Homo sapiens: one gene and its partners. The protein of the gene in region 2 interacts with the protein of the main gene of each other region in a pairwise test. Each region holds a gene or a part of one and is shown on either strand. Other genes may lie near its edges. The genes, in order: PPP3CB, TBC1D10C, KLHL12 and KRTAP13-1.

Region 1 (8,212 bases), on a different chromosome or scaffold from region 2:
ATCATAAATATGTACTGCGGAGTGAAAAAACCAACTACTTAACTATGATGAAATGGGAACTTTTGGTTAAATTTGTAGGGATAGGCCAGGTGCAGTGGCTCATGCGTGTAATCCCAGAACTTTGGGAAGCCAAGGCGGGCAGATCACCTGAGGTCAGGAGTTCGACACCAGCCTGGCCAACATGGTGAAACCCGGTCTCTACTAAAAATACAAAAATAAGCTGGGCATGATGGCGGATGCCTGTAATCCCAGCTACTCGGGAGGCTGAGGCAGGAGAATCCCTTGAACCCGGGAGGCGAAGGTTGCAGTGAGCCGAGTTCACGCCACTGCATTCCAGCCTGGGCGACAGAACAAGACTCCATCTCAAAAAAAAAAAAAAAAAAAAAATTACAGGGATAAATTTGCAGTGGTAACATTTTACACATATGCAAAAAGTGCTGTATCTCAAACAGTTTAGGTGGAAATGAGTATGATTTGCTTTCAGAATGTGTGTTAGGTGACTCAGAAAGTGACTTCAATGATAAGGAATGCACTGGTTTCGAATATATGCATAAAGATTTTGAATGAAGGTGTTTTGTGAAACGTTAAGTAAGGTAGGAGAAAAATCAGTATTTTGAAATTATGATTTATTATTTTAAGCCTCCTAAATTAATTTGCATTTCAGAAGTAAACATCTGGTGTTTGGTCTATATCTCTAAAAGTGTATAGTCAAGTTGGTCAGAAAACATTGTTTTTATGTTCTTATTAGAAAGGAACATGGTAAATCACCTTGTATTTGGGTTTTCTTTCTAGTTAGGCTTATTTGGTATTAAAGTGTTGTGGGGTTTTTTTTGAGATGGTGTCTCGCTGTGTTGCCCAGGCTGGTCTCCAATTTCTGGCCTCAAGTGATCCTCCTGCCCCAGCCTACGAAGTAGTCGTGATTACAGACATGCTTCACTACTCCCAGCATTAAATTATATTTATTGTACTTCATTTAAGGTAAAGAATATCTAATACTATAATACAATATTTTGAGAGTTCTGCCTAAAAATGTTTTGGCTTAAACAAAAAAGTTTTGGTTATCCTGAAAGAACTTAATTTTGTGAGACAACTCATTTCTCTAATAATTCTCAACAAAGAACATGTTAGTATAAATAGCTTTAAAAGTGGTATAATTTGCTTACTATTTAGAAAAACACTTCTACCCAATAAATGAAGAAGAAAGAAAAATCCCTGCTTTACAGTTTTTAGTCTTATCTAGATCCAATTATTAGTTTTTAAGTTAATGTATTTTTGGTGACTTATCTTTTATTAATTAAAAACATTTGCAGCTGTCCCTTTCCCCCCAACACATCGCTTGACATCTGAAGAAGTATTTGATTTGGATGGGATACCCAGGGTTGATGTTCTGAAGAACCACTTGGTGAAAGAAGGTCGAGTAGATGAAGAAATTGCGCTTAGAATTATCAATGAGGGTGCTGCCATCCTTCGGAGAGAGAAAACCATGATAGAAGTAGAAGCTCCAATCACAGGTAAGCTTATTCATGTTTTGGGTATTATTTTTATTATGTCATTATTTAGTTGCCTGGATTTACAACTTACTGTTTTCAATGATACTGTATGCTAAATCAATATTACTTGGACATTATCTTGAATTTCAAATTATTTTCCATACTTAAAAATGATTGCCTGTTTTCAGTGAATAGACATGATTCTAAATAATCTGAGTGTAGAAGTTAGTCTAATATGCTTTTGTGAAGGTTTCATCAATTGTGTTGACCATACTTCAATTTGATCAATACTTACTTTGCTTTCAATTGTTAGGGTCAAATACCTTGATGTCATATCAGATACCAAAAGTGACCATTTAGAGAGCAACAGAAAGTATTGAGTTAGAATGGATATTTTAACTGCCACCATTGTAATTTTGTCATCTTGAAACTTAAAACACATCCTTGGAGTCCTAGAGACGATCTTTATAAATGTAGATTTCAGTTTGTCACTGACCACAAATTTCGTTATTTCTGTTACATCTTTTTCTAGATCTTGAGCACATGAACACTTGGTTACACATCATCCTAATCATGACTGTTCATAGACTACTTCCTTCTCAGACATTTCTTGATAGCATTTGTACTATGTCTTATGTAAAATACGTTTTAACTTAAGTAAAATTTGTTGTTTTAGAGATTTTTTTCCCTTATCTAATAATCTTCTTGTTTCAGTGTGTGGTGACATCCATGGCCAATTTTTTGATCTGATGAAACTTTTTGAAGTAGGAGGATCACCTGCTAATACACGATACCTTTTTCTTGGCGATTATGTGGACAGAGGTTATTTTAGTATAGAGGTAATAATCATAAACTGTCATTTGATTTGCTGTTAAGTGTTAACACAGATGCTTTCACTTAATCCTAGTTTTCACAAGTACCTGTGTTAGGTTTTTTTAATAACTCTGCATATTCTGAAGTTTTTATGAAAAGCTACTATTTATTCCTGTTCTGTCTTTCAAACAATTCAAATAAATTTCTTTGTATAACTCTGTTTATATAATTATAATTGCCATTTTTTTCCCAGTGGAATTTATGAGCTGACTGAGGGGTCTTTATTGCCCTGTTAACTAGTGGCCTTAAAAATTTAGTGCTATTTATCTCTCTTGCCCCTAAAGGCATTAAACCATGTGAAAAAAGATTACTTGAATTCTGTCTGATTAAATAAAGTATATTGTGATTTTTTTATTGCTTGAGCCCTAGTGCTTCTGTTTCTCCTTGTGTAGCTATTAAGACTCAAGTATATCCTATGGAATCTTTGTGTATTTGGAAAGTATTAATTTGTTTTTAAAAACTTGAGGCATTAAAATGACCTTTTGATTATCACTTAACAGTAGATGGTTCCTTTTCTTCCTTTTTCTCTTTTCTTTTTCTTTTTTTTTGAGACAGGGTCTTACTCTGTGGCCCATGCTGGAGTACAGTGGCACCAGCATGGCTCAATGTAGCCTTGACCTCTTGAGCTTAAGGGATCCTTCTGTCCCAGTCTCTCAAATAGCTGGGACCACAGGTACACACCACCATGCCTAGACTAATTTTTAATTTTTTTGTAGCAATGGAGTTTCCTATGTTGCCCAGGCTGGTCTTGAACTCCTGGGCTCAAGTGATCCTCCTGCCTTGGACTCCCAAAGTGTTGAGATTACAGATGTGAGCCACATTGCCCTGCCATCTTTTTAAATTATATAAACAAAATGCAGCAAATGTAGAACAATATGTATTTTCCAATATATACATTTTTTCTTTTTTTAATGAAAAGGGGATCATATTATAATATTGTCTGTAACTTGCTTTTTCATACATGCCTACACCAAATATCCTTCCAAGTCAGTAAATATAAACTCGTAGCATCATTTTAATATCTACATTGTTTTCCATCTAATAAACAAACCATAATTAATTAATTCCTTGTGTTAGACACTGAAGATGTTCCCAGTTTTTTTCTTTACAAATGATGCTTTAATGAGTCATATTATTCATACATCTTTACATACTTGCCTGATTATTTTTGTAGGACAAATTCCTAGAGGTAGAATTGTGGGGTCAAATTTCTACCAATAGATACCTGTGTTGCACATTTAATATGTTCTAAGCATGTTCTAGGCACTGAAGACATATCGATTAATCCTCACAATAATATTAATGAGGTAAGTACTGTTGTTTTATTCATTTTATAGATGAGGAACCTGAGGCTTAGAGAGGTTAAGTAACTTGCCCAAGGTATTATTAGTAAACAGCATAGCCAGGCAATGTGACTCCCAGCATATGCTTTTAACCACCTTCCCTAGTAGATACTGAAACCTTACCTGGTGAATTTATGTTGGTTACTGTTGTTTATATCTCCTTCTCCAGTGTTTCCAATATACCTTTTTTTCTGAGGTGTGCTAGGATTCTCAGAGTGGAAGGAAGTTCTAGACTCTGTCTGTCCTGCTTCCCTTAGGAATTTTGCTATTTTGAGTTCTTCTTCCTCCTGCTGATAGTTGATTATTAGCCTCGTCAACTTTTCCCAAATTGTCACAGGGCTTCAGGCAAATCAGAAAATGGCCCATTTTAACAAAAAAATTTCAGGCATTTGACCAAAACAATAAAATAAACAGTTTTATGAAGCTTATTTGGTAACTAAGTTGGTGTGCATGTCCTTGTGTAAGATTGTTTTGCAGCTGACTCTTTTTTTTTTTTTTTTTAATTGAGATGGACTCTCACTCTGTCGCCCAGGCTGGAGTGTAGTGGCGTGATCTCGGCTCACTGCAACCTCTGCCTCCCAGGTTCAAGAGATTCTCCTGCCTCAGCCTCCCAAGTAGTTGGGATTACAGGTGCCCACCACCACTCCCGGCTAGTTTTTGTATTTTTAATAGAGATGGAGTTTCGCCATGTTGGTCAAGCTGATCTCGAACTCCTGGCCTCAGGTGATCTGCCTGCCTCGGCCTCCCGAAGTGCTGGGATTACAGGCGTGAGCCACTGCGCCTGGATGTAGCTGACTCCTTTAATACATTTTGTTGTTATAAAAGGAAAATAACAAAGAATCAAAATAAGCATCGAGAACAGATTATTTCCCTGATTTTATTACTTTTTTCCCTTTTGAATAAAATGAAGGATATGAATAGTTACATGTTTAGATATACCTTAATTTATTAACAATAAAGTTTTGTTGGGTGTGGTGGCTCACACCTGTAATCGCAGCACAGGTTGGCCAAGTCAGGCAGATTGCTTGAACCTGGGAGTTCGAGACCAGCCAGGGAAACATGGTGAAACCCTGTCTCCACAAAAAAAAAAAAAAAAACTTAGCTGGGCCTGGTGGCATGTGCCTGTAGTCCCAGCTGCTCAAGAGACTGAGGTAGGAGGATTTCTTGAGCCCAGAAGGTCGAGGCTGCAGTGAGCAGTAATTGTGCCATTGCACTCCAACCTGGGTGACAGTGAGACCTTGTCTCTAAAAATAAAAAAGTTTGTTTTTTCTTTTTGCATATGATTATATAAACCATGCTTATTTCCATATCAAATATTTCTTCCTTTTTTAAGCAAATAAGTAAAATGTGAGTCTCTTTCTTATGTTAAATCTATTTAGAGAATAGCATCTGCTATAATGTTTAATAATATTTTTATTTGAAAAATTACATTTGCATTGAATTAGTTCAGATAATAAGCACTTACCATATGTAAGGCAATATTCATAATCAATGAAACAAACATAAAACATGGACCTTCCCTTCATGGGCAGCATGGCATAATGCTTAAGATCAGAGGATCAGAATCCTATCTCCATCACTTAGAAGTTTTGTGGTTTTGGACAAGTTACTTGAGATCTTTGCTTCAGTTTCTCATTTGTAAAATAAAGATGATATTACATACTTCATAGTGTTGTTTGAGGAATAAATTAGGGGAATTATATAGTGCTTCACATATTGTAAGTACTTAATAAATGTTAGCTGCTGTTATTTTGACAGTATTATTTACTAATACGCATCTGTAGACCAGTGTGCTAATTGTTTTTATATTGGGCAGTCTGTAAATCCAAAGTAATTAAATAGATTGTTTGACTCATTCATTCAACAAATATTTATTGCTCTTCTCCTATTTGCTAGGTACTCTTCTGGGAGTGGAGAATCAAAAGTGAATAAGATGACAAAATCTGTGATTTTGTGGTGCTTATATTTTAGTAAGGGACAAAGAAAGATAATAGAGGATGGTAAGGGTAGTAGAGGAAAAGGAGCAAAGATCAAGCAGCTTCATTAAACAAAAGTACAAGATAAATTCACTAGAAAAATTTTCTTTTGCAGTGTGTCTTATATTTATGGGTTCTGAAGATTCTATACCCAAGCACATTATTTCTTCTGAGAGGCAACCATGAATGCAGACACCTTACTGAATATTTTACCTTTAAGCAGGAATGTGAGTACTGCCAGAAGAAATGTTTTCACTTCCTCAGTATTCTTTTGGACTTAAGTGGGTAGTAAGAGTTTTGAAGACTTTACAGTGCAACATGTAAGGACAGATTTCATGTCCACACATAAAGCTTTGAGGAAAGTTGTCGAGCACTCTCTGGTGTTTAATGGTATTAAGAAGTTTTTGGTGGGGCATGGTGGTTCACGCCTGTAATCCCAGCACTTTGGGAGGCCCAGGCAGGGGGATTGCCTGAGCTCAGGAGTTGGAGACCAGCCTGGCCAACATGGTGAAACCCCATCTCCACCAAAAATACAAAAAAAAAAAATTAGCTGGGTGTGGCGGCACACTCTTGTAGTCCCAGCTGCTCAGGAGGCTGAGGTGGGAGGATCGCTTGAGCCTGGGAATCGGAGGTCATAGTGAGCTGAGATCATGCCACTGCACGGACAATTGCCTGGGCAATAGAGTCAGACCCTGTCTCAAAAAAAAAAATTTTTTTTCATTTCAGAATTTCTTATTATGTTTAACTTTTACAAACATACTTAGAGTTTTATATATAAGTTTTAATGTTACAATTAATTTTTCTAAGCCAGGCACGGTAGCTCACGCTTGTAATCCCAGCACTTTGGGAGGCCGAGGCGGGTGGATCACCTGAGGTCAGGAGTTCAAGACCAGCCTGGCCAACACGGCAAAACCCCATCTCCTAAAAATACAAAAATTAGCCAGGCGTGGTGACATGTGCCTGTAATCCCAGGTACTCAGGAGGCTGAGGCAGGAGAATCACTTGAACCTGGGAGGCGGAGGTTGCAGTGAGCCGAGATCGCGCCATTGTACTCCAGCCTGGGCAACAAGAGCGAAACTCTGTCTCAGGAAAAAAAAATGTATATATTTTTTCTAACAGGAAAAAATAAAAACCAAAAGAAAAAAATGTTATTTTGCATTGGAGATTTTTGTCCTTCAATCTTGAGGCATTCCTGTGAGGAATCCTAACAAATTGTTTATCCTGTTACCATTGCAGATCATTTCAATCATGCTATTAATGATTGAAATTCTTCTTAAAATTTTTTTGTTTTTTTAAATATCATTGTTTTAAGACTAGTCAGGTACAGTTGGTGAAATTCTTAACCTGCAATGTTTATCCCTTTTCTCTCTCAAATTATTATAGCAATGGTAATCTAATACCTGTAAGTAACCATATGTTACAGAACAAGATTAGGCCTTTTTCACACCTCAAACCTTTGTGCTTTTTTATTATTTTTGTTATTTTTATTTTTTTTTTGAGACAGTCTCGCTCTGTCGCCCTGGCTGGAGTGCAGTGGTACAATCTCGGCTCACAGCAACCTCCTCCCGGGTTCAAGTATTCTCCTGCCTTAGCCTCCCAAGTAGCTGAAATTACAGGCATGCGCCACCACGTCCTGCTAATTTTTGTATTTTTGGTAGAGGCGGTGTTTCACCATGTTGGCCAGGCTGGTCTCTTAACTCCTGACCTCAAGTAATCCACCTGCCTCGTCCTCCCAAAGTGCTGGGATTACAGGTGTGAACCACCGCATCTGGCCTGCCTTTGTGCTTTTTAAGTTAATATTTATGACTGTATTAAGTAGAGTTAAATTCTAAAAGCAGAAATAATTTCAACGTTTTGAGACTCAAAACATGATCCAATAAAGGTCATACTAAGTAGAGACTTGCAGCAACAGGAGAAAAATACAGTGATGGGTAGTGGCAGAAGTGGCATACTCTTATAACTTCAAGGATCAGGCAGTTAACCTAAATGAGTAAGATAAGACCTGGAAAGTGCATGCTTGACCTAAAAGCAGTCAAATTAGAATTTTTATTAAACCACAGTGCTAGAAAACAGAGTCGTTAGCAGACTGCCAGTGTAGAATCTCTGGTTGCTGGATATATATATAGTTTTTTTAATATTTGAATATTACAGTATTAAAACAGGAAATAGGAACTAAGTTCTTTTTCTTTGCCTAGATAAATAACAAACCACCTACCAAAATCTCATCAAAACCAAAATAGGAATTTAAAGTTGTAAAGGAGCAAATGAAAGTGCATGATATCTCTCTAAAAGTAAATGATAGTTTGATTTGGTAGAGTTTTGTCTTTCTTGTGTTTCTATATTGGCTTCCTGCTTCACTGCCCATTTTAAAGTATTCATTGTAGGCAAGAGGAACCCCTCAGCTTTTCTGACATGAGCATGCTATTATCTTTTATTTTTCAGAAAAAATGGATGAACCTTGAATTTTGTTGTGATGATGTAGTCATCTTGCCTGTAATAAGAATAAAGTAGTCATTGACTCTTAGAATAA
Region 2 (8,219 bases):
CCCAAGTGTACCCACCCAACCACAGAAGCATACCCCAGGAGACCTGGGTCTCAGCCACAATTCACCCACAGAAGCACAACCAGAGATTCACCCCCTCTCCTGGAGTGTGTCCCACCAGTGGGTTTCAATCCTAGCTCTGGCTGTGGGACCTGGGCCCCTCCCCTTTGTGATCTGAAGCTCACTCTCCCCAGCCTAGAATGGGGCTGGTTTCCCTCTCCTAGGCAGGGCAGCCTATGGCTCTAACTCCTCCCTCTCACAGTCCCCAGTCAGCCCTTCTCCCTGCCTGTCTCGCAACTGGACACATATTGAGCCCTGGCTGTCCTTGAGAGCCTCCTGGCCTGGGGGAGAATACTGAGGGGCCCACACATGTCAGGGACAGAGATGACAGCTGTTGGACCCTTTCTGCAACTATATACAGGGCAGTCTGTGCAGACCCATCCCTGTCTACCACTGGAGAGGGTCGGCAGAGAGGGGAAATGGCTTCTCCAGGATGCCCAGTCCAGCCCACATTCCCCACACAACTTCCAGGCCCACGTGCAGCCCTCCCTACAGCTGGTCCAGGCTCCAGGAATGAGGAACCAGCCCCATTCTAGGCTGGGGAGAGTGAGCTTCAGATCACTAAGGGGAGGGGCCCAGGTCCCACAACCACCCCAGGAGACCCAATCGCTTGCCACCTGGGTGGCCTGAGCGCCCATGGGGTCCCACTGTGGGGCCTGGGCGTGATCCAAAGAGCATGAGCTTTGACATTTAACATTTAACAAGCTCTGCAGCCCTGGGGACTCAGTTTTCTCATCTTCAAATGGGGATACAGTGCACACTCAGCCCAGGCTTAACACTTCACATGCAAGGGAGCAATTATGAGACTGAGAGAGGTCGTGTGACTTGCCCAAGGTCACACAGCTGGTGAGAGGCAGAGCCGGGATCTTCTGCCAGAATGCGTGCATGCATGCACAGAGTGCTGCGGCTGTGCCCTCTCCTAGGCCACCCTGTCTGGTCCCTGGCTGCTCTGGCTTTTGCCTTGTGGATACAGGGAGGAAAATCAGAGTTGGGCAGCTGCAGCCCAAGCTCAGGATCCTGGGACTTGGGGCAGGCAGGTGGGCGGGTGGTTCTGCTCTGCCCCTGCCAGGAAAGCCTGGACATCACCTGAGGCTAGGTAGGGGTGGGGTGAGGAGAGGCAGTGCTTTGGCTGCTGTCCCGCTGGACTGAACAGTCATCATCATCATCATCATGAGCTGGTAGAGCCCTCTTGAGGCTGGGGTGGGGGCTATTATAATCCCATTATCCGCAGGAGAATACTGAGGCTCAGAGGAGAAGAAAGGGCCTTTCCCATGCAGGTGAGTCCAAGTCTGACCCCTCTGGGAGCCTGGAACAGTGTGGGAATTCAGGGAACCTCAAGTGGGTGGCAGGGCAAGATGGAGACCGTGGGTCCTCCCCGCCGATCCATGGCAGGCACCCATTTGTCCTGCTCCACTCCTTTGCATGCCCCCACTCGTGTCCACTCTGAGGCAGGCTGACAGACATCCCAGGGGCCCTCCCAGCTTCAGTCCCCACACACTGAGTCCTCTCAGATGCATCACTTCCCTTCTCTGAGCCCCCTTCCAGGCAGATCTGTAGGGACTTTCTAGGTTCACTGAGCATGTTTGTGTAGGTTGCTCACTGCACAAAGGCACCTGGGAGAGAGATCACACCCCACTCTGCTACACCGTGCACTCTGGTGAGGCTGCATGTTGCCTGGAGGAGAGACGTCTTTCCCTAGCTGGCAAAAAGGTGCTGTGGGGGCCGGTGCAGCCCTGCGGAGGAGAGCCTGTGAGAACGCATGTGTGCGAGGGTTCACACCCGGAGGGCACTGGGCCTCTTCTGTCCAGCCTGTGAGTTAGGGCTCCCATGCAGGTGACTGATAAGGAAACCTACAGAAGAGCTGCCCAGAAAACAGTCTCCTGAGTAGGAAAGGCAATGACTGAGCCCCAGCTGGAGGGACGCTGCTGGAGACCACCGGCTCCTAGGGTCTGTGTCCAGGGTGAGCCACTGCCACCGCGCCCCCGCAGGCTCATGACAGACCCTCGGCCCAGGGCTGAGGCTGCTGCACCTTGCTCCTCTATTCTCCCAGGCAAAGAGCTGAACTGTGGAGGGCGGGGAGCTCCCAAGTGGATTTCAGGGACAAGTGCCCCCTGACCCCGGCCACCCTGCCCGCTACAGTGCCTGAGATTCCACCAAGACACTCCTCGTCTAAGGATAAGGCATAGTCTACACAGCACAGAGCCTTGCCTCTGCATTCCAGCCGGCTCTGCCTTTCACTGTGGGCCTGGGTGAGGTCCTTGTCCTCACTAAGCCTGTGTCTCTAACAGGGATATCAGGGGCCACCTGCAGAGAGAGGGCCTAGGGGCGGGGGGTCTGGGAAAGGGTTTTGTAAACTACAGGTAAGGAGGCTATTATTAAGTTGCAGGCACCCCAGCGGGGTAAGGAGGAGTGGGCAGAGGAGGCTCTGGAGCGCGCTCTAAATCACGGGAGTCTGGCTATTGCCTCATTCACACACTGAGGGGCTGGTGCAGGATTGGGGGTAGAGCGGGGAAGGAGCAGGAGAAAGCACTCCCAGGGGGCTGCCCAGGGGGGAGCTGCCAGTGGTTGGGGCAGGGCTAAACCTTGGGTCTGCTATGGATAGATAGTAAGGCTTTCTGCAAGTTCCTGCTCCTCCTGAGCCTCAGTTTCCCCCGGAGAAACGACAGATAAGGAAGGGTCTGGGCCGCCATGATTCCCTCTTCCAGGGGTTAGGCTCCTTGGGAGTAGGACAAGTCTGCCCAGGACCCAGGACCTGGCACTTGCCACATAGACGCAGCCTGTGGCCCTGTCGCAAGAACATTCCAAACCCAGAGTCTGACAGGTGACTCCACTGACACCCCACCCAATGGCCACCCCTGGAGCCTGGGCCTGCAGATGCCTCCCATCCATATGGAGTCCTGCCGTGTTCCCCATCGAAGGGAGGGCACTTGGGAATGGACACTGCGGGACACACGCCTGTGTCGGAACCAGCCCTGTTGCCCTGGCGATGGCTCAGGTCCTGGGCACCCACGGGGGCTATTAGTGAGTGTGGGAGGGGGTTTCCATGGTGGCGGTCCCGAGGGGGCAGACGCAGGGCCCAGGGAGGGGTGAGGGCTGGCGGGACCTTTCTCCTTTGTCCGAGGCACACTAGGCCTTTGTTCTTGCCTGGATCCCTTTGACAGATGTGACTAGAACCATGGGTGCGGGGAGGACTTGGGTTAGAGTCCCCCATCCCAGCGAGTACTGAACCACCCTGGAGGGAGGGGAAGGAGGGCAGAAGAGGGGGTAGAGCCCCTGGACTCGCCATCCACTGGGGCGCCCTCCTCCTGCAGGTGCAAAAGCCACTCCTGTCCCCAGAGGCTGGGCAGGGCAACTTTCAATTGGCTCTTATTACTGTAAACACCTTCCCCAGCGGCCAGTGGGCAGCCTCGGTGTGTCCCCAGGGCAGGACCAGGAGAGGGCGGGGCTGGGAAGGGCAGATGAGGGAGGAGGGGAAGGGGCTGCCTGTCTGGGGTTGGGAGGAGGGCATTTGATCCAGCGCCATCCAAGGCATCTGTTCAAGAAGATTTTATTCCTGGTGCCCTCTGGGGTCCCTTGACTCAGCCAACCCCTTCCCTGACTCCTTTGGTGCTGGCTTTGGTACTTGTGAGGGCCTGGGCACCAGGACGGTTCCATGGGTCCTCACGTGCCCCACTCTGTGACCCTCCTCCATGCTAGTGCCTGACCCAGTATGTACCACGGAGGACCTCCTCCTTCCCCACTGCCTGGTCCTTGCCAGGAAGGAAGCCAAGTCCCCGAGTCCCAAGAGTAAAGTGCGGTGCCTATTTGCCGGGCCGGCATCAGCCATCAGGCAATTGAGACTGGGGGACACTAAGTCCATGGTCCTCTCAGAAGCGGGTGTCCAGGAAGGAGGTGGAGCCTCGTTGGGGCCTGGGGGGCCCCTCGATGGGGGGGCCCCGGGCCCGAGTCAGGAGCCCATGGAAAGTCTTGCCGCGGGTCTGGGGTTTCCGCCGCGGTGGTCTGGGCTCCTCCGGGGGCTGCACCACAATCCGAGGCACCTCAGGCTTGGCGCCTCGTCGCACTCCTGCCAGCTGCTGGGCCTCAAAGATGGCTTGGGCCCCGGCGAGGCGGACCTGTGGCCGGGGCGGGGGTCCCGGCGCGGAATCGGGCAGCTGGGCCAGCTGGGCCTTGATCTCCCGCTGCAGGTCCCGCTCTGACAGCACCACGCTGTGCACCTGTGGGGAGCAGTTGGTGCTGCGTTTGCCCGGCCTCAAGGCAGGAACAGGAAACTGTGAGGTCCCCAGCCCAGGAAGTGGCTGAGGACTGAGGGGCTGACAGCCTCACTGGGGAGCCACAGAAAGCCACTGGAGGCCTCAGGTTTTTGTGTTCTCTGAAGCTCAGGGGACAGGAACTAAGTCCCCATTCTCGCTTTGGCTTCCTGCTCTGGGACTCAGTTTCCCCCGTGCAGCAGGGGCTGGGCAAGTCCAAGGAGAGGTGGGGGTACCCACCTGTGACATGAAGGCCTCCTCCTGCAGCTGCGCGGGGGGGATGGCTCGAAGGGCTCCCAGTGTCTCCAGGAGGCCAGGGCAGGCCCCTCGCTGCTCTGCAGTGCCCAGCGCCAGGCGCACCAGTGTCAGCCCCACACGGAACAGTACTCTGGCACCTGCAGGCCGGGGGCTTATTCACTGGGAGGCCGGCCCTGCCCCTCCACAGTTCTGCACCCAAACCTGCCCTCAGCCATATGCCTCCCACTCTCCTGCAGCTCTGCCCTCCCCGGTTCAGGAACAATGACAGAGGGTGGAGTTGCATTTCGGGTAACACAGGCCGCTGTACTGGCCAAGTTAGCCTCAAGAGCCACAGATGCTTTGGGGAAGAGTTACTATCTTGTGAATTTGGTTACTGTCGCCTCCCATCCCCACCCCCGCCAAAATGAAGGTCTTGATCACTTGATGCTCAGATGCCATCCATATCTGGAGCCAGCAAGCACCCAGCAGGTGCCTGTGGGCTCCGGGGAGGAGCACCTCCTACCCTCCCTGAGCCAGTCAGGCCTCCATGTGCTATGATCACCCAGCTCCTACCCCAGGCAGCATCCGGGTGACAGGTGATGTGCCACCAGGCACAGGGCCATCACCTTCAGCACACCTGGTCCCATGACTCGAGGCTCCAAAAGGGAACCCTGGAGCTGGTGAGCTAGCTCCCTGTCCACACCCCAAGGCTCCAGTCCCCTCCAAGCCACCAGCTTCCTGCCAGGAGCCCAGGGCTACTGATGCCTTCACACCAAGCCCTCCCTGGGCCTCAGCTTGCTCATCTCCATGATGAAAGGTCAGGTGGAGCCCTTTAAGGGCCTTTCCAACTTGGATCTGTGACCCTCTGATTCTAGAAAGATCCTAGGCAGAACTGCTCTTCCCTAAGCCAGGAGCATAGCACTCAGTGCACACTCCCCACAGTGTGAGTTTGGGCTAGTCCTGGAGCCTCAAAATTCCTTCCTGGCAGCCTCTGATCTGAGAAGAGCCACCAGGGGACCAGCGAGGTTGAGTGATGATGGTAGGAACAATCACTATTCATACTATCGTCCTTCTGATAAAGGGAGCCTGTGTAGTGTTTGCCCCCAGGTGGGCAGGTCAGGCCCTGCCCAGCTCTGCCCAGCCCTGCTCTCGAGGTCTAAGGCTGGTTGGAAGGTGACCGCATGGATAGCGACTTGGACACCTGTGGCCAGAACTCTAAGTCAGCCAGTGGTCCTCCGCTGTGCGGAGGGCAGGAAGCCGGCTGAGCACACGACAGGCATTCAGTATGCACAGTATGCATATGCTGACTGATTTCTACCACGTTTTAAGGTGCAACCTCCAGACCTCACATATAGAACAGAATGCAGGTGGGTTACCGATGGCAGTATCAAGGCAGAGTCCCAAAGACACAGGGAGTCCAGCTTGGCTCTGCTCCGACTCCCCTCCTGTTCTTGGCCTGGCCCCCAGCCTCCACCTCTCTGGCTTCATGGCTCCAAGCCCTCCCTGCTTCGTAGACTGTAGCCTGGCCCCTGGGGACAGTGGCCTCTCTGGCCCCAGGCCTCCACAGCCACCCCTGTGAGTCCTCCTCCTGCACAGAGCAGCCAGAAGGAGCTTAAATGCAGCCATCGCCCCTGCACTCCCCTGACACTCCCTGTCACATCCCTTGTTTTATTTTCTTCATGACACTTCTGACAATCTATAAATATCTTGTGAATTTGGTTACTGTCGCCACCCATCCCCACCCCCGCCAGAATTGAAGGTCTCGATCACTTGATTCCCAGCTGCAGATCCACGTCTGGAGCCAGTGAGCACCCAGCAGGTGCCTGCGGGCTCTGGGGAGGAACGCCTCCTACTGTCCCTGAGAAGCTCAGGCCTCCATGTGCTGTGATCACCCTGCTCCTGCCCCATCTGCCTCCTCTGGAAGCCTCCCTGGCCCAGCTCTGCACCAGGCGGTGCCTGGGTGATGGGTGATGGGTGATGTAGCGCCAGGCACCAGGCCATCACCTTCGGCACACCCAGTCCTGTGATTTGAGGCTCAAAAAGGGAACCCTGGAGCTGGTGAGCTACCTCCCCACCCACACCCCAAGGCTCCTGCCCCAGCCACTGGCTGCCCCACTCACCCTCACTGAGGAAGGCATCCCAGACACGCAGCACTGTGGGGAAGGGCAGGGAGCGGGCGAAGAGGCACAGGAACCACTCGGGCAGGTACAGCAGGGGTCCGACGCCCACCTGCTGCAGGTGCTTGTGCACGTGCGGAAGCAGCCGCCGCAGCAGGGCCATGAACACCTCGGCGTCCAGCCGCACAGCCTCCTGTGGCCACGTCCATCAGCAGGCCAGCACCGCCACCCCCAGAGCCCAGGCTCAACCTCCCTCAGTCCCCAGACCCCCACCCACTCACCGGGCCCCTGCCCCTCCTTCCTCCAGCCCCCATGTCAGCCTCTCACCATGTGGGGCCCGTAGTACCCAGGGAGGTAGACCTCACAGATCTGCACCAGGCACCAGAAGGCCTCCTGGGGAAGGGGCAGGGCACAGGCCTGTAAGTGCTCACCAAGGAAGGGACCGTGGAGGAGAAGGCAGGACAGGGGAAAGGAGTGAAGGGGAGGGCCTGGGCACCACAGGGGCCTGCACTCAGGGCCACTCCTAACCTGCGCAGTTCCTGGAAGCCCTTCCCAAAAGCCCCCTCCTCTGCCCAAGACAGGGTCTGCTGAGGGGTTTAGGGTGTTGGAAATCACAGGGCTCATGGTGTTAGATTTGAAGGTCACAGGGTTGGGGTTCACTGGCCAAGGGTTGGGAGTGTCCCAAAGTTCAAGTCCTGGGTTTCTGGGTCTTTGGGGTTGGGGTCGCAGTCCCCAAGTTCAGAATCAGGAGTCGTGGGGTCAAGGTGATAACATCCAGATTCCTAGATGACTGGGGTCAAGGCTGGGGTCAAGGGTCCCAGGTTCCTGGAGTCAAGGTCATTAGGCTTGAAGGTCACTGAGGCTGGCAGTCATGAGGACCTGGGTCACTAGGACAGGGTCCAGGAATCAAGGATTGCAGGTTTCTGAGGCCACAGTTCCTGGGGATGGGGTTCCCTGGGCCTAGGTCACTAGGGTTCCCAGAGCAGGGTCAAGGTCACTCACCTCTGGGGGCAGGTGCATGAGCAGCACAGCAGCCACGGGCCCCTGGGCCTGGCAGTAGCCCTGCTCCGGTCGATACAGGGTGTAGGCCTTGAGCACCTGCAGGAGCCCCTGCTGCCTGTGCCGGAAGACCCCATAAGGGGCCAGTCCTGCAGGCACCCCCTTCTCCACCCTCTGGGGGCCTCTGCCCAGGCCTCAGCCTCCCTGGGCCTTCCTGGGTCCCCTGAGATGCAAGACTGTAGAGCTGGGCTAGGGAAAGTGGGCTGGAGCACCTGGGGCTTGTGGGGCTGGGGGTCCCTGGGCATCACCGGCCTCGTACCCGTGGCCCTGAGGCGACACAAACATCTCGTGCAGAGGGAATTGACGGTGCAGGTCCCTGCCAATGGTCTCCATCCACTGTGGGTCTCCAGGGGCCTCTGCCAGCTCCTGTGGGTAGCCAGGAAGGTGGGTGTGAGGGTTCAGTGTGGTGAGGGGCTCTGGGTAGGGGAATTGGGGCCCCTGCCCACTCCCTCACCTGATAGGTGCCAGGGCTGTTCTTCTGGCACACATGGGCCCCACACAA
Region 3 (7,519 bases), on a different chromosome or scaffold from region 2:
GATCAGATCACATAGACTCTTGCTCTGGCTACATATTGAGTCTGGATTCGTTTCTAAATCCTCACCCTGCAATTGCATAGAGTCTCCCCCGAAGCACTGTGGCCCCTACATAGCATCGTGGAGTGGTCATACTGGTGACAGTTGTCCAGGAATCAGTGCGAATGTTGTATGCTTCAACGGAAGAAAGGTGGGCTGTACCATCAAATCCCCCCACCACATAAATATGGTCATTCAGCAGGGCTACTCCTGCACCTGGGGAAAATGAATGCATTAGCAAATGTATGGTACTAAGCCTAGAATCTGAATTATAGAAATAAACTACGGTCACTAATGACTAGCTGAGTTCTACAGTAGATGAGGGATATGGAATGGGCCCACACGGGCCTAGAATAATCTAGTCCAGCACAAGTTATTCCATCTATAAACCCTTTGGCTTGGACTTGAAATGATAAAAGATAAATAATAAAAATGGTTCTCTTCTTTACTTTCATTAACTCAGAGCCCAACCCTTCTAATTAGGAGAAAGGGAGGAAGTGAAAAAAAGGTGGCAATAAAGGTAGATGGAGGGAAAGGAGTTGTGATTATGGTTCTGAAGCAATTTTTACCCAGAGTAAGTAAACTAGAACAGCACAGTGCTCTCTCCTTTTCTATATCCCAGCCTGCTCCACTTCAAAAAGCTCTTGGTGAAGGTAAGTAGCTACTCTTTTGTCCTTATGCATTAGAGACTTTATTTAACAGATATTTATTAAGCATGTACTACACAGGCAAAATTGTACTAGATATTCTAAAACGTAGGGAGAGAACAAAGACATGAAGGCTTTTGCTTTCAAATTTATAATCTAGTTGTAAGTATCAACTGTCTTTATCCTAGTATTTAGAGAAAACAGAGACAAGGAGGAGAGCAGAATCTCATTTTTACATTAATCTACGGTTTGTCCCATGCACCACCATTATATATGTAAAGGTCTGACAGCATCGCCTATTGTCCCCTCCCTCAGATCTGGTCTTACCAGAACGCTTGGTGGCCATTGGTGTAACATTAGTCCAATGTCCTGTATGAGGGTCGTATTTCTCAACTGAATTTAAGATATTCAAGCCGTCATATCCTCCTGGAAGACAGAGACCATTCCAGAAAGAGTGGTAAATCCTCATGCCCATTCCTGGTCGGTTTTTTTCTGAGTGCTTCAACTAATTATTTTAGTTTCAATTTTCCCACAAGAGTTCCAATAACTCTAAGAGAAATCTGACATTATGCTTATAAGAAAAAGATAATCCCAATTAATGGAAAATATATTAAGACACACCAGGGTTTTAGTTGAAGGGAAGTCTATGAACGTCATTTTGGTAAAAAGGAATCCTTACCCACAGCCCATTACCCATTGAGTTCCCTCCCATTCCTGCATCCCAGACTCAATACCTAGACAGTAGATCACTCCACTGGCCACTACGAGTCCGGCACCTTCCCGGGCTGTCTGCATATCTCCCAGCATGCTCCACTGGTCAATGTTTGGATCATAGCGCTCCATACTGGTGTGACGCCTGCTTCCATCAAAGCCTCCAGAGACATAGATCATATCTGCTCAGAATAAACAAATTACAGACTATTAGAGAATGAGAGATTTCTAAGAACTCTTTCCTCTACAAATTTTCCAAGGGTCCTTTAAAAGTCTGAGAGCAAAAACAAAGTATTTTTAAATGAGATAAGTCAATTAAGTTTTATAGACAAGGAAGACATCTAAAAAGAATGGGGTAAAACAAAATCCTTAAAAGCATTCAAAGACCACCTAGGAGTTTGCAAAAACACAACTAGTGCCAGTTCCCCACCCAGCACATTGGAACTTGATTTGCCAACTTTGTAGTCAATAATGAAACATCCATGAATATTGAACAGCTTCTATTACACTGATATTTCTGAAAGCAAAAAGGAGTATTTGTCGGCTGGGCACAGTGGCTCACACCTGTAATCCCAGCACCTTGGGAGGCCGAGGTGGGTCAATCACTTGAGCTCAGGAGTTAGAGATCAGCCTGGGCAACATGGCGAAACCCCATCTCTACTAAAAATACAAAAATATAGCTGGGCATGGTGGTGCATGCCTGTAGTCCCAGCTACTCAGGAAGCTGAGGTGGGAGGATCGCTTGAGCTTGGGGAGGTTGAGGCTGCAGTGAGCCGTGATCACACCACTGCACTCCAGCCTGGGCAACAGAGAGAGACCCTGTCTCAAATAATAATAACATTTGACCTTAATTTTTTCTCCGTATTTCATGCTCCTGCCAGACAACAGGAGAGGTTAAAAACCCTGGTCCAGCCACAGTAAGATGGAAATAATTGCCCTGCACATCCAGCCTACCTCCCAGGGTGGTGGCTCCAGCAAGACCTCGTCGGACATTCATAGGGGCCACAGAATACCAGACCCCATCCTCATCTGCTGTGTAGTCTAGACATTCCACTGAACTAAGGCGGGAACGGCCATCATAGCCACCAATGACGTAGATCCGGTCATGAAGGGACACTGAGGCCACATAACGTCTCTTACGAGTGATGCTCTATGGATTTGGAGAGAAGAGGTACAGAGCATTTCAGTTAGGCAAGTTTTGGGCCTTACCTTTTGCTATCTTCCCTGTTGTATCTGCACACCTCTCTGCTTCTTCACCTGTCATCATGAACCCTCCTTAAGTGGTTCATCCTCAAGTGGCTCCCAAATAGCTACCTACTGAACGAAATGCCTGTTGTGGTGCTCTTAAAGATACAAGCTTTCTGCATCTCTGCCTCTTTCCAAGGCTTCCAAAAGATTTAACAGCTTTCTGTTATCCAATATCTGACTCCTTTCTCTTCCATAAGGCACTGGGCTAAGAGACTGATATCCTTCCATAAAGTAGAAAAGTATTCCCACATTGCTAATCAAAGGATGAGGATTTATTATAAGAACCTTAAAAGGTAGGAGGGTTGGATTTCCATGTTTTCTCAGAAATTACTATTGTTCATTCAGCACTGAGAGACATGCTGAGGGAGACAGATACAAACTTTTTTTTTCTGAGTTGGGATCTCACTATCACCCAGGCTGGAGTGCAGTGGCACAATCACAGTTCACTGCAACCTCGAACTCCTGGGCTCAAGCAATCTTCTGCCACAGCCTCCCAAGTAGCTAGGACTACAGGCATGCACCACCATGCCTGGCTAATTTTTTTGTTTACTTTTTTGTAGAGACAGAGTCTCACCATATTGCCCAGGCTGGTCTTGAACTCCTGGCCTCAAGAGATCCTCCCATCTCAGCCTCCCAAAGGGCTGGGATTATAGGTGTGAGCTACCACGCCCAGCCCAAACTTCTGAGCTCAACTGAACACTGGGTTCAATTCAACACAATTTAACATTCAGTTCAGTTTAACACAGCACGACCAATGAAATGTGCTAGGAATTATACAGACAGCTTAGAAAGGCACCTAACTAGTGGTGGCCATCTGAGTTTACCTTGACACAGGGCCACTGACATTTCTAAGGCATAATCTTCTAATCTAAACAGTCAAAAACTGTTAAGTAAGTACCTACTATATGCACAAGACTGTTGTAAGAAACATCCTGTTATTAGGCTTTTCTACTCTTAAGGCTGGATTAGCTATGATCTGGAGGCAGAGACTGAGGACATTTAACATCCCTCCCAACGAATGGTTTCACCATTATTTACTGGCAAAAAGCTCCACTCCTGAGTCTTGGGGTCATATTTCTCTACCACATCAATGGGAGACTGCTGGCTTCCAAAGCCCCCAACCACCAAAAGCACTTCATTGGCTCCTGAAGACAAAGGCAGAAAAAAGATGGGTTAGTTCAGCATCCCTGGATGGGTAACTAGTCACAGGGAAGTGTCAACAGAAACAGTTCTAGGATGTCTTGTTTTATGTGGCTGAGGGATGCAATCCGAAATGGGAGATAATCATAAGGCTGTCGAATGGGGAGTTATTTTTCCTTGAGGCTGTAGCTCTCGAGTCTCTGAAACTTAAATTTCTGGACATTAAAACTCTAGAAAGCAAACTTCAACATGACACTGCACCATTTCTTTTTCTTTTTTTTTTTTTTTTTTTTTTTGGAGACAGAGTTTCGCTCTTGTTGACCAGGCTAGAATGCAATTCCATGATCTCGGCTCACCACAACCTCTGCCTCCTGGGCTCAAGTGATTCTCCTGCCTCAGCCTCCCGAGTAGCTGGGATTACAGGCTGTGCCACCACGCCCAGCTAATTTTGTATTTTTAGTAGAGATGGGGTTGGTCAGGCTGGTCCCGAACTCCCAACCTCAAGTGATCCGCCAGCCTCGACCTCCCAAAGTGCTGGGATTACAGGTGTGAGTCACTGTGCCCGGCAACACTGCACCATTTCAACCTATTGAGATGACTGGCTGACATAATCCTTGAGGTCTTAAGTGCAGGTGAGAGCCTAAAGGCACTCTCTGCACTTAGCCTGAAAAACTCAAATTGGGAGGTTTTTTGTTGTAATGGGGAAAGAACTCTCCTAACCTTGTCACAAAAAAAGCTACATGTTGAAACTTAGGATCCAAGTGATGGATTTAAAATCTCTTTTTCTTTTTCTGAATTGAGAAAGGGTCTCGCTATATTGCCCAGGCTGATCTCAAACTCCTAGCCTAAAGTGATTCTCCTGCCTCAGCCTCCCAAAGTGCTGGGATTACAGGAATGAGTCACTGTGCCTGGCCTAAAATCTCTTTTCCATGAACACTTCCTTCTCCAATTTAGTCAACTATATGATCACATTCCCTGCCAATTCATCAAAACCACCAGGCAACAAAAGACTAGAGTTTTAAAGGAAAAGTCTTTTTCTCTATTTTCCCAAAGAAGCTATTCTGACAGCCTTTATATCTTCCCCTTCCCCTAACGCCTTACTCTGATAAAATATTTCCTACCTTGGCTTTTGGAGACAGGGTCTTGCTATATTGCCCAGGCTGGTCTCAAACTCCCGGCCTCAAGCGATACTCCTGCCTTAGCCTCCCAAGTAGCTGGGATTACAGGAATGAGCCACAGCACCTGCCTTGGCTTTTTTCAAAGAGCAAAGTCTCTTTGAGAAAATCCCCTGTGCATGTGCTCCATTAGAACTCATGGAGAGAATAGTTAGCTGGAGCTTTGGAAAATTCAATCACTAGGAAGCATCTAGGAGACCAAAGTGATCTTATGAGTAACCTGGACTTGAAAGAGCAAATGTAGTACCTTGAAGCTGACAGGAAACACAGATAAACCCCTAATGAAGTAATGGATTTGACAATTATCATCAATTGCTGGGCTAGAATCATTATTTCAAAAGCCAATATATTACTATGAGACATTGAGTGCTTCCTAATGGTGATGAATAGGAAGGACCACACTACCACCTCGTCTTTTTTCCAAAAAACTGAGCCTGACTCTTAACAAGCCTCTAATCCAACCACTAGTTTACAGGCAATACATGGGAGAAGAACATGTTAAATGACACTACAAAGATGCAACAGCAGAGTCTAGAATGTGGGAAATTCTACAGGTCGAACAGCTTGGCTTCTTCAAGAAATAAACTGGCTGGGAAAAACCAAAACAGGATGGAAACTTTTGGATTAAAACGAGACTGAAAAGAGACATGAAATCACGAGCAACGTGTGGACTTTGTCTGGATTCTGATTTGAACAACATAAGTACTCAAAAACAAACAACAAAAAATTATGGAAAAAAAATTACACAAACACGTGAGAATAAGGAATTGTGTGATTTTAAACAGTGATAATGGCATTCTAGATGTGGCAGAATTTTTTTTCCTTATCTTTTAGAGACACACGTGGAAGTATGACACATAGGCATGGAATAATATCCAGTCTGGAATTTGCTTCAAAATAGCCTGGGTGCAGTGGCTCATGCCTGTAATCCCAACACTTTGGGAGGCCAAGGCTGGCAGATCACTTGAGGTAAGGAGTTTGAGACCAGCCTAGCCAACAAGGCAAAACCCCGTCTCTACTAAAAATACAAAAATTAGCTGAGTGTGGTGGCGCACACCTGAAATCCCAACTACTCGGGTGGCTCAGGCATGAGAATGCTTAAACCCAGGAAGTGGAGGTTGTAGTGAGCTGAGATAGCGCCACTACACTCCAGCCTGGGCAATAAGGCAAAACTCCATCTCAAAGAAAAAGCTATGTGTTGATAATTGTTAAAATTGAGTGATGGGTATGGGGGATCATTATATTACTATTTTTATGTTTGAGATTTTTCTTAATAAAACATATACACTCACACATAAACCACGGAGTTTTTCTAAGAGGGCACTTGTCTTATGTACTTGCCAAATAAAGTGGACCCTCTCCAAAGTGAGCCAGCAAGTAGGTCTCAGGAGTCAGCTCCTTCGAAAATCAAAGCATGGCCAGGTGTGGCTCATGCCTGTAATCCTAGCACTTTGGGAGGCCAAAGCAGGTAAATTGTCTGAGGTCAGGAATTCAAGACCAGCCTGTCTAACATGGCAAAACCCCGTCTCTACTAAAAATACAAAAATTAGCCGGGTGCAGTGATGCGCACCTGTAGTCTCAGCTACTTGGGAGGCTGAGGCGGGAGAATCACTTGAACTGAGGAAGAGGTTGCAGTGAGCCGAGATTGCACCACTGCACTCCAGACTAGGCAACAGAGTAAGACTCCATCTCAAAAAAAAAAAAAAAAAATAATAATAATAAATAAAAAAATCAAAGCATAAGAATGAAGGGTTCTTTAGTGATTGAAGTAATTTTATGTCTGCCTAAAATTACTTCAAGTTGGGAGAAGCTAGGACCACAAGTTATTTGTTTCTTCTTTGGGAACACTATTTCCCTACCTATTCCTTTTTCTTACTCCACCTCTTTTCTTCCTGACTTGAATAGACAAGGTAAGTGTGATCCTTCTATCCAAACACATTTCCCATGTAGATGAATATGCCAGCAGATGATGTATGTATGAATAAAAATTCCCACACCAACCAAGAGGTACTTCCTGTGCTATGCAAATTTTAAAGTTTTCTATTGATTTTTCAGCTCTTATTTCTGTTGCTTTATATAACTCCCTGCCCCACCCCCCAACCCCCCAAAAATAAATATATATATCTAAAGAAGTCAGGCACAGTGGCTCATGACTATAATCCTAGCACTTTGGGAGGCCAAAGTGGGCAGATTCCTTGCGCCCAGGGGTTCGAGGCCACTTTGGGTAACATGGTGAGACTCCCATATCTAGAAAAAAATAATAAAAAAAAATAGCCAGGTGTGATGGCAAATGCCTGTAGTCCCAGCTACTCCTGAGGCTGACATGGGAGGATCACTTAAGTCCAGGAGGTTAAGGCTGCAGTGAACAAGGTCGTGTTCCTGCACTCCAGCCTGGGGAACAGAGTGAGAACTTGTCTCAAAAAATAAAATAAAGTAACATAAAATAAAGAAGGCTGGGCGTGGTGGCTCACGCCTGTAATCACAGCACTTTGGGAGGCCGAGGCGGGTGGATCACTTGAGGTCAGGAGTTCAAGGCCAGCCTGGCCAACATGGTGAAACCCC
Region 4 (7,451 bases), on a different chromosome or scaffold from region 2:
AATCCCAGTTGCTTTGATGAAGGTAAATTTCTTTTTAAATTTTTTTCCCACCTCTGGCTGCTTTAAGTTTTTCTCTTTTTCTTTCCTGTTCCTCAGTGAGATTCCAATATGCCTAGTTATGGGCTTGTCTTCATATTTATCATGCATGGGATTTTTAGTAGTTCTTGAATATATGGATTTGATATTTCCTCTATTCAAAAATTATCTTTGGATCCCCTGTGAATCTGTTTTTATTACATATGACTTCTCTTAGATTTAGTGATATGTGGACTTATTTCTAGCCATATGTACACACACACACACACACAGAGAGACACATAATTTTGTTTTAGGACTCTAGCAGCAACTATGTTAGACTGTTTCACATGTTCCATAGTCTCTGAAACTCCTTTAAATATTTTAATAATTTTTCTTTATTTTTTTTGTTTGTATATATTCTAGTGAACAATAACTAATTATCTCTTTAGCCATGTTTAATTTTGTTTTAATCCGTTCACCAATTCAATATTTTAATTTATCACATTTTTTAATTTTAAAATCTGTTTTTGGTTCTTTTAATATACTTCAGTACTCTGCCAAAATTTTTCATCTATCTTTTTATTCCCTAAGCATGTCAAGTGTAGTTATTTAACATTTATGTCTAATATTTTCATTTACTGAAGCTCTTGTAAGCCTAATTCTGCTACATATATCTATATTTTGGATTTAATAATTTCTTAACTTCTGAAGCCTGGTAAATTTTTGTTGGGTACTAGACTATATCTGCGTCTTCATGTGTATCTAGATATAACTATATCTGCAATGGTATCTATATCTATATATAAATAGGTATCTATATTTACATTTGTATCTAAATTTATCTATATAAAGAAATAATTTAGAGCTCACTGTGATGTTATCCTCCTCCTGGAAGAATTTAAATTTGATTTTGGAAGGATAGAACAAGAACCCTGGTATTCCTATATCCTCTTAACTTAAGCACTGAAATGATTTGGAGCTGAACTTCAGCCTCTCTTTTGGATTTGACAACATTCCTATTCTAAAAGTAGTCATGAATTCCATGGCTTTCTGCTTGTTTATTTATCAACACCTTTCTTAGATTTTGGCCCTGGTAATTTCTAAATATTTTCACATGTATGTTTATATATCAAGACCTTTCTTAGATGTTGACACTCATAATTTCTGAATATTTTCACATGTATTTTCCTTGTCTAGATTTTCTAAACAAAAGACATTAATTATAAATTGTTTTTTCATTTGTAAGCATTTGATTTTAACTTATTTAACCTTAGGTATGAACCTAATAATTTATACCTAATCATTGGATAAAAGATTTCTTTTTAAAAGTACATAAGTGATTAGAATAGAAGAGAAAATGGAATAAAAGTGCCCAATCTCGGCCGGGTGTGGGGCTCATGCCTGTAATCTCAGCACTTTGGGAGGCCGAGGCGAGCGGATCACCTGAGGTCAGGAGTTGGAGACCACTCTGGCCAACATGGCAAAACCCCGTCTCTACTAAAAGTACAAAAAAATTAGCCAGGCGTGGTGGTGGGCACCTGTAATCCCGGCTACTAGGGAGACTGAAGCATGAAACTCGCTTGAACCCAGGAGGCAGAGGTTGCAGTGAGCAGAGATTGCGCCACTGCACTCCAGCCTGGGTGACAGAGCAAGACTCTGTCCCAAAAAAAAAAAAAAAAAAAAAAAAAAAAAGTGCCCTATCTCAAGACTGTGTTAGTAGTTTGAATGAACATGTTTGTCATTACCACACCATATTAAATCACTTTGCATTGTAACTGAGCTAAATTTCCAATAATTCCTTGAATACACAAAGACTTTCAGCCCCTTCTGCTTTGCTTATTGCGTGTAATCTTCCCAGACTTCTCCCCTCCGATATTTCTGTCTTTGCAAGTCAAAAATTTGCAGCTCCTTCAAGATATCGTACAATAAGTTTCCCTGTACATTCCTTATCATCTTTGTGTCTCCATATTTTTACATTTAACATCATTTACATGTATAATGGATCTCTTTCTCTAACAGCTGTTGTCTAAAGGAATAATGCATGGGAATAGTTATTGAACGTTGTTTGAGCTCTTTTTTTCTTCTCAACTTTAGGTTCCTTATTGAAATCTATTTATCTTCACACCTGTTTCTGGAACTGCTTTGCCTGAGAAAACAAAGAATGCTACCACAAAAAAGAGAAATAACATTTCCCTAATTTTATGCTCAGATGTGAATTAAATTATCACTTCTGATGATATCAAAAGGTTATTATCTTCAGCTTTACTTAGTGTGAAACATGAATACAAACCAAGGTGGAATATCAATCCTCCATTCAAGTTTCATGGTATCCCTTATTACACATATGTAGATAACTGAATCATATTGAATTCTCATCAATGAGATGCAGGCATTTGATCATGATTACCAACAAATATTGGGTGACTTCAAAAGTTACTTCAAATCACTTTTGTTTCTCTTCAATTCCATTTTTCTTTTATGTATATCTATAACCATATTGTTCTAAATAGTATTTTTTTCTCTGCAGATTCCTGATATAACTATCAACTAGTTTGCTACCTTATGCTTGTTGGCATAGACACAAGAATCCACATTTTATAAGGGGATCAAGCTAATTCCTGATTCTGATATTTTAATGAATAAAAGTCTGTAAATTTAGTAGACTTCCACTACCTGTAGTTTGAATAACAAAAATCTCTGAGGCCCCCAAAAGTTTGTCTGAATCGCAAACTTCATATGATTTTGAAACCTATTCCTATATATATACACCAATTGTTTCATAATAATTGCCTAATACATCACAACCAAAACCCTAGCAATATAAAACCACCACAAACATAGCTGAATATGAGACCAATGGATTTATTGGATTAAAATGATTTGACTTTTTATACAATTGTGGAAGAAAATCGAATAATATAAATTCTACTTTTAATGTGTATTTCAAGATTTATTTTGAGCTAGTTCTCCAATTACAGTTTTTCAGATGAAGCCTGCCAGCCAGTATTTGGGGACAAAGACAAACTGAGAACTTGATAATTATAGAATAAGAGGCTAATTCTTTCTGTACATGATGAAGACAATAAAGGTTATGAGTAGAGGCATTGAAGGCATTAGCCAACAAAATCAGCAATTTAACAAGATGATCAATAGTAGAAGCCTGATCCACAAGTTGGTCTGTAGCAAGAAGACTGGCAGCTCCTAGAAGCCAAGTAGGTTGGGCGGCAGAATCCAACGCCATAGCCCAGGGAAGGGAAGCCACAGCCTCCATAACCCAGGGATCTGAAGCCACTGGACCCACAGCCCACTGAGTAGCAGCTCCTCGATCCATAGCCCAGGGAGCGGCAGCTGCTGGATCCAAAGCCTAGAGACCCAGAGTAAGTTGTCTGGCAGGGACTGCAGAGCAAGGAGGTTCTGGGACGGTAGCAGGAGGTCTGGCAGGGGCTGGACTCCACATAGGATGTCTGGCAGCTGGTGGGCTCCCAGCAGGTCTGCTGACAGCCCCTATAGAGAGAGGAACCCAGCTGGCACGTGCTGGGAGAGCAGAGGTCAGTGCTGTAGACCTGGTTGCTGGGGTAGGAAAAGCCACAGGAGGAGGCTGGGTAGTGCAGGTAGCCACCACAGGAGCGGGAGGAGAAGTTTCCAGAGCAGCAGTTGTAGGACATGTTGATGGGAGATGTGAGTTCAGCTGAGTTACACTGAGAAGATTCTGAGTTTGCATGCCACATCTGGACAGGACCATTTATATACGTTCAGCCGTGGGTGTGGCACCTTACAGGGTCATCCTTCACACATTTAAGCTCCCACATTTCATATAAGCAACTTAGTAATCTTCTTTGTCATTGCAGTTAACTAACACCCTTCATCTTATATTTATGGAAGAACTCCTTTTGTTTTTACAGCTCTGCGTCAATGAAATGCATTTATGTTACAAATGCTATGACAGTATGTGATTAGTCCCTACTCCATTATGTCCAGGAAAACCCCTCTTATTTTCTCTGCCCATGATTTATACATCTGCTCCTGTTTTGGCTGGGAAATTCTTTCTGTCTTGGGTGGGGATAGCAATGTATTCATCTTTTTTTGTCAGTGGCCTAGAGGCAGAAATCTTATTGTTCACACTCTCCAAAATAGTTTGCCATCTGTTATTTACTATAATCAGTGCTTGTAAGTCCAGTCTCGAGGGCCTATATAAAAGTAAGCCAAAGGAATTGAGAGATAACTAGACATAGATATCATCTTGAACAAATTTTTTTAAAAAATTAGTATTTAGAAAAAAGAAATCAAAACAAAAGCAAAAAATAAATAAATACAAATACAACAATAAGGACCCATGTGAAAAAAAGGAAAGTAGAAGACACTGCTGAGATGAGGTAGGAAACAAGTCAGAGTAGTCACAATAGCAGAAGGATGCTCAGGACTCCATCCTAAAAGCAAATCAAAATGCTTTCAAATAAACTTATTTGATGACTTTTGTATGATGCATTCATATTTGTAAGTGTTCTGGAGCCTACCTGTCTACAACACCTCTAAACCCCCACCTCAAAATGTTGACTGCCTTCTGAGCATTTGCGGGGTAACACCAGCTTCTATGTTTTTCGTGACTCTGTCCCAGCCCTCTTTAAAGAGGTGGATTTAGGTTTTGTGGTGTTGAAAAGTATAATTTGGAGATCCTCATTAAAAACACAATATTAGGAATATAATAATAGATATAAACATGGATATTAACTTAGAATAAAAACTTCCATAGTTAACAAAACCCAAGATGTCACAAAATCAAGACAATAATATACCTTTATCATCATCCTCATCTATAATCTTTTTCTACATTTTTTGGTTGCATAGTCGGTCTTTGATCATCTCTACACATGACAATGGTTTTGTCCACATGATTTTCTGTAGAACAAATGGAAGTAAAACTTGGTGTTTCTTTTAGAAATAGTACATCAAAAATACTTGAATTATTTTTTATGACACAGAAAAGTTTTTTTTTTTTAACATTGCCATTTGTTGTGAGCAACGCCACAGCTGTAACACCCTCTGTCATTTCATTTCAGCAGTGCTTCAAGCCTGAGATTGTGCGCCTCTTGTCCAGATGTCCCTGGTTCACCTCCCACCTGTATCTGTTGGCAATTTGCATGAGGATCGGCTGCAAACAGCTGTGGATCCAGGGTTGTAGGGGTCTTCTAGTTTGTGGCAGAGCAGTATCCTCGTTCCAATCCTTCTTCTTAAAAGGAAAACTATGGGCCGGGGGCTGTGGCTCACGCCTGTAATCCCAACACTTTGGGAGGCCGAGGCGGGCGGATCACAATGTCAGGAGATAGAGACCATCCTGGCTAACACGGTGAAACCCTGTCTTTACTAAAAATACAAAAAATTAGCTGGATGTGGTGGCGGGCGCCTGTAGTCCCAGCTACTCGGGAGGCTGAGGCTGGAGAATGGCGTGAACCCCGGAGACAGAGCTTGCAGTGAGCCGAGATGGCGCCACTGCACTCCAGCCTGGGCGACAGAGTGAGACTCTGTTTCAAAAAAAAAAAAAAAAAAAAAAAAGGAAAACTTTCTAAGGTTTATAAGGTTGACCCTGGGGACTAGATATATTAGAAGTAGTGCAGGCAGCTCTCCGGATACACCCACAGCCTGAGGATGCCACGAGGGACTCCTAGGCCACAGCAGCATAGCTGGAGCAGCGGGTTCCTCCCAGTCTCCCCAGGAGTGATAACAGAGCTTTGGAAAATGTCAGGCAAGAGAAGTACCCTCAAGCTTACCCTTCATTAGGTTACATCTGTCTCTGCCTCTGCCTAACATGCCCTGCCCAAGATGTCTGAGCATGTGCTCATGACAGTCTCTCTAAGACATCAGGGACTTACATGGAACACCAGGTCTCCCTCGGACACCTGTCAGGACAATGTGTCTCTCTGGAGCTCCAGCCTCACTTTTAGTAATTACTTTGCTGTATGTGTTGTTGGTGTTTTTCTTGTCTTTGCTGCTGTTTAATCCCAAATCAAAACAGAAAACAAAATAAGAAAATGTCTGATAGCTTTATTATGTTCTTTGGATATATGTTTTCTAAAAATTCAAGACAAATTCCCTGACAGAATATATGCCAAAGTCCAAATATGTGATGTCAGGGGCTCAAGAAGTATAAAGCCATGGCTAATGTCATGGAATTGCAAATCTATTTAATAAAAAGGTAATTATACAACAGATACTGAAAGTATCAACTTTTTCTTAATGTAAATGTATGTTTAATTGGAATTTTCTTTAGAACTCACTAGATAAAACTTGCATAAGTAAAAAAAAAAAAATGACAAAGAAGCTTCCTCCACATCAAACAGCTACTTTTAACAACTTTATCTTGTGATCTTCTAAATATCTAAATTTCTGTCTATAGGCTCTTGGCAGCTGCGAGAAAAGTCCTAGCCCACAAGATGCTGTGAAGACCATTTCTTTCTCAAATCCTCATTTTCCAAGGAACTTTTTGAAGATAACCATCCTATCACAACTAAGGGTAACTTTTTGTTAACTGGAAATAATCAAATTAACAAAGTCAGCAAATGTGTTTATCAGGGCTTACCCTTATGACTTCCCTCCCCGCTTTGCAATAGTGCCCTTCTCCTCCCCATGCATATCCTGCCTTCCCTGCACTAATGGGCTGGTGAATGGTACCAGTTGAAATAATAGACCATAAACTCACAGGTCCTCTGTCAAATCCAGCCCACATAGGTTCATTCATCTCACAAGTGCAGGCCCCCCCGGGCATTTTATTCAACTATAAATTAGTTGCTAATATTCAACAATCAAAAATTCACAAAAATTTGGATTTGTGATTTCTTTTTTAAAAATTCTGAAAGTCTGGTGATCCTGGGTTTTCTCACTCACAGTTGGCTGGAACTGAAGAAGAGTTGCTCCACGGATGTGGGACATGCTTCTTATCATCCCCACAACTCTAACCACCCCTCTTGTCTCCCAGCTCTACAGCCAAATTTCAGTTGTGACTACGCATCAAGCCTGCACTATTATTTTGTTGTGTTGGTTAATGTCTCTATCATAAGTGAGAGAATGTGAGATGAATTAAGAAGCTTTGGGTTTCAAGAAAATTTCTGAAAACTATATTCTCGTGCACTTGACAAATATTCTTTCATGTTTAATAAGAAAATACATCATGTCTGTGATGATGGATTAGAATATGAAGCATCAATCATCAAACAAATCACAAATCCACTGAACCACCTCACTTATATTTATGAGCTGCCTACATCATGTAGTGGCTTGAAATGATCTCCTCTGACTTCAAATACTTTATAAGCCAGCAGAATTTGAGTTGGTTTTTATATGCTGGGCAAATGCTTAAATCAGTGTTGTCTAACTTCTGAATATGCAACAGAATGAACAATGGGTCATTTTAGGACATACAAATAAACCAAAAAATAATT

What was found.
Region 1: the proteins of TBC1D10C (region 2) and PPP3CB interact in a two-hybrid assay, tested with the Homo sapiens proteins (one study listed by IntAct).
Region 3: the proteins of TBC1D10C (region 2) and KLHL12 interact in binary tests that used the Homo sapiens proteins (3 or more experiments, as listed by UniProt).
Region 4: the proteins of TBC1D10C (region 2) and KRTAP13-1 interact in a two-hybrid assay, tested with the Homo sapiens proteins (one large-scale study listed by BioGRID).

Annotation. Positions count from the first base shown.
Region 1 is NC_000010.11:73,472,616-73,480,827, reverse strand, and holds part of PPP3CB (serine/threonine-protein phosphatase 2B catalytic subunit beta isoform), read left to right. Parts: intron 1-859; exon of another isoform or gene 860-978; intron 979-1,310; coding exon 1,311-1,511; intron 1,512-2,204; coding exon 2,205-2,329; intron 2,330-3,616; coding exon of another isoform or gene 3,617-3,670; intron 3,671-5,797; coding exon 5,798-5,909; intron 5,910-8,212. UniProt on the Homo sapiens protein: Calcium-dependent, calmodulin-stimulated protein phosphatase which plays an essential role in the transduction of intracellular Ca(2+)-mediated signals.
Region 2 is NC_000011.10:67,405,459-67,413,677, reverse strand, and holds the end of TBC1D10C (carabin), read right to left. Parts: coding exon 8,172-8,219; intron 8,084-8,171; coding exon 7,977-8,083; intron 7,776-7,976; coding exon 7,661-7,775; intron 7,076-7,660; coding exon of another isoform or gene 7,052-7,075; coding exon 6,986-7,051; exon of another isoform or gene 6,940-6,985; intron 6,852-6,939; coding exon 6,662-6,851; intron 6,130-6,661; coding exon of another isoform or gene 5,929-6,129; exon of another isoform or gene 4,710-5,928; intron 4,700-4,709; coding exon 4,545-4,699; intron 4,272-4,544; coding exon 3,924-4,271; 3' UTR 3,589-3,923; downstream 1-3,588.
Region 3 is NC_000001.11:202,893,174-202,900,692, forward strand, and holds part of KLHL12 (kelch-like protein 12), read right to left. Parts: intron 3,788-7,519; coding exon 3,681-3,787; intron 2,545-3,680; coding exon 2,349-2,544; intron 1,577-2,348; coding exon 1,418-1,576; intron 1,110-1,417; coding exon 1,011-1,109; intron 253-1,010; coding exon 66-252; intron 1-65. UniProt on the Homo sapiens protein: Substrate-specific adapter of a BCR (BTB-CUL3-RBX1) E3 ubiquitin ligase complex that acts as a negative regulator of Wnt signaling pathway and ER-Golgi transport.
Region 4 is NC_000021.9:30,392,319-30,399,769, reverse strand, and holds KRTAP13-1 (keratin-associated protein 13-1), read right to left. Parts: upstream 3,740-7,451; 5' UTR 3,684-3,739; coding exon 3,165-3,683; 3' UTR 2,948-3,164; downstream 1-2,947. UniProt on the Homo sapiens protein: In the hair cortex, hair keratin intermediate filaments are embedded in an interfilamentous matrix, consisting of hair keratin-associated proteins (KRTAP), which are essential for the formation of a rigid and resistant hair shaft through their extensive disulfide bond cross-linking with abundant cysteine residues of hair keratins.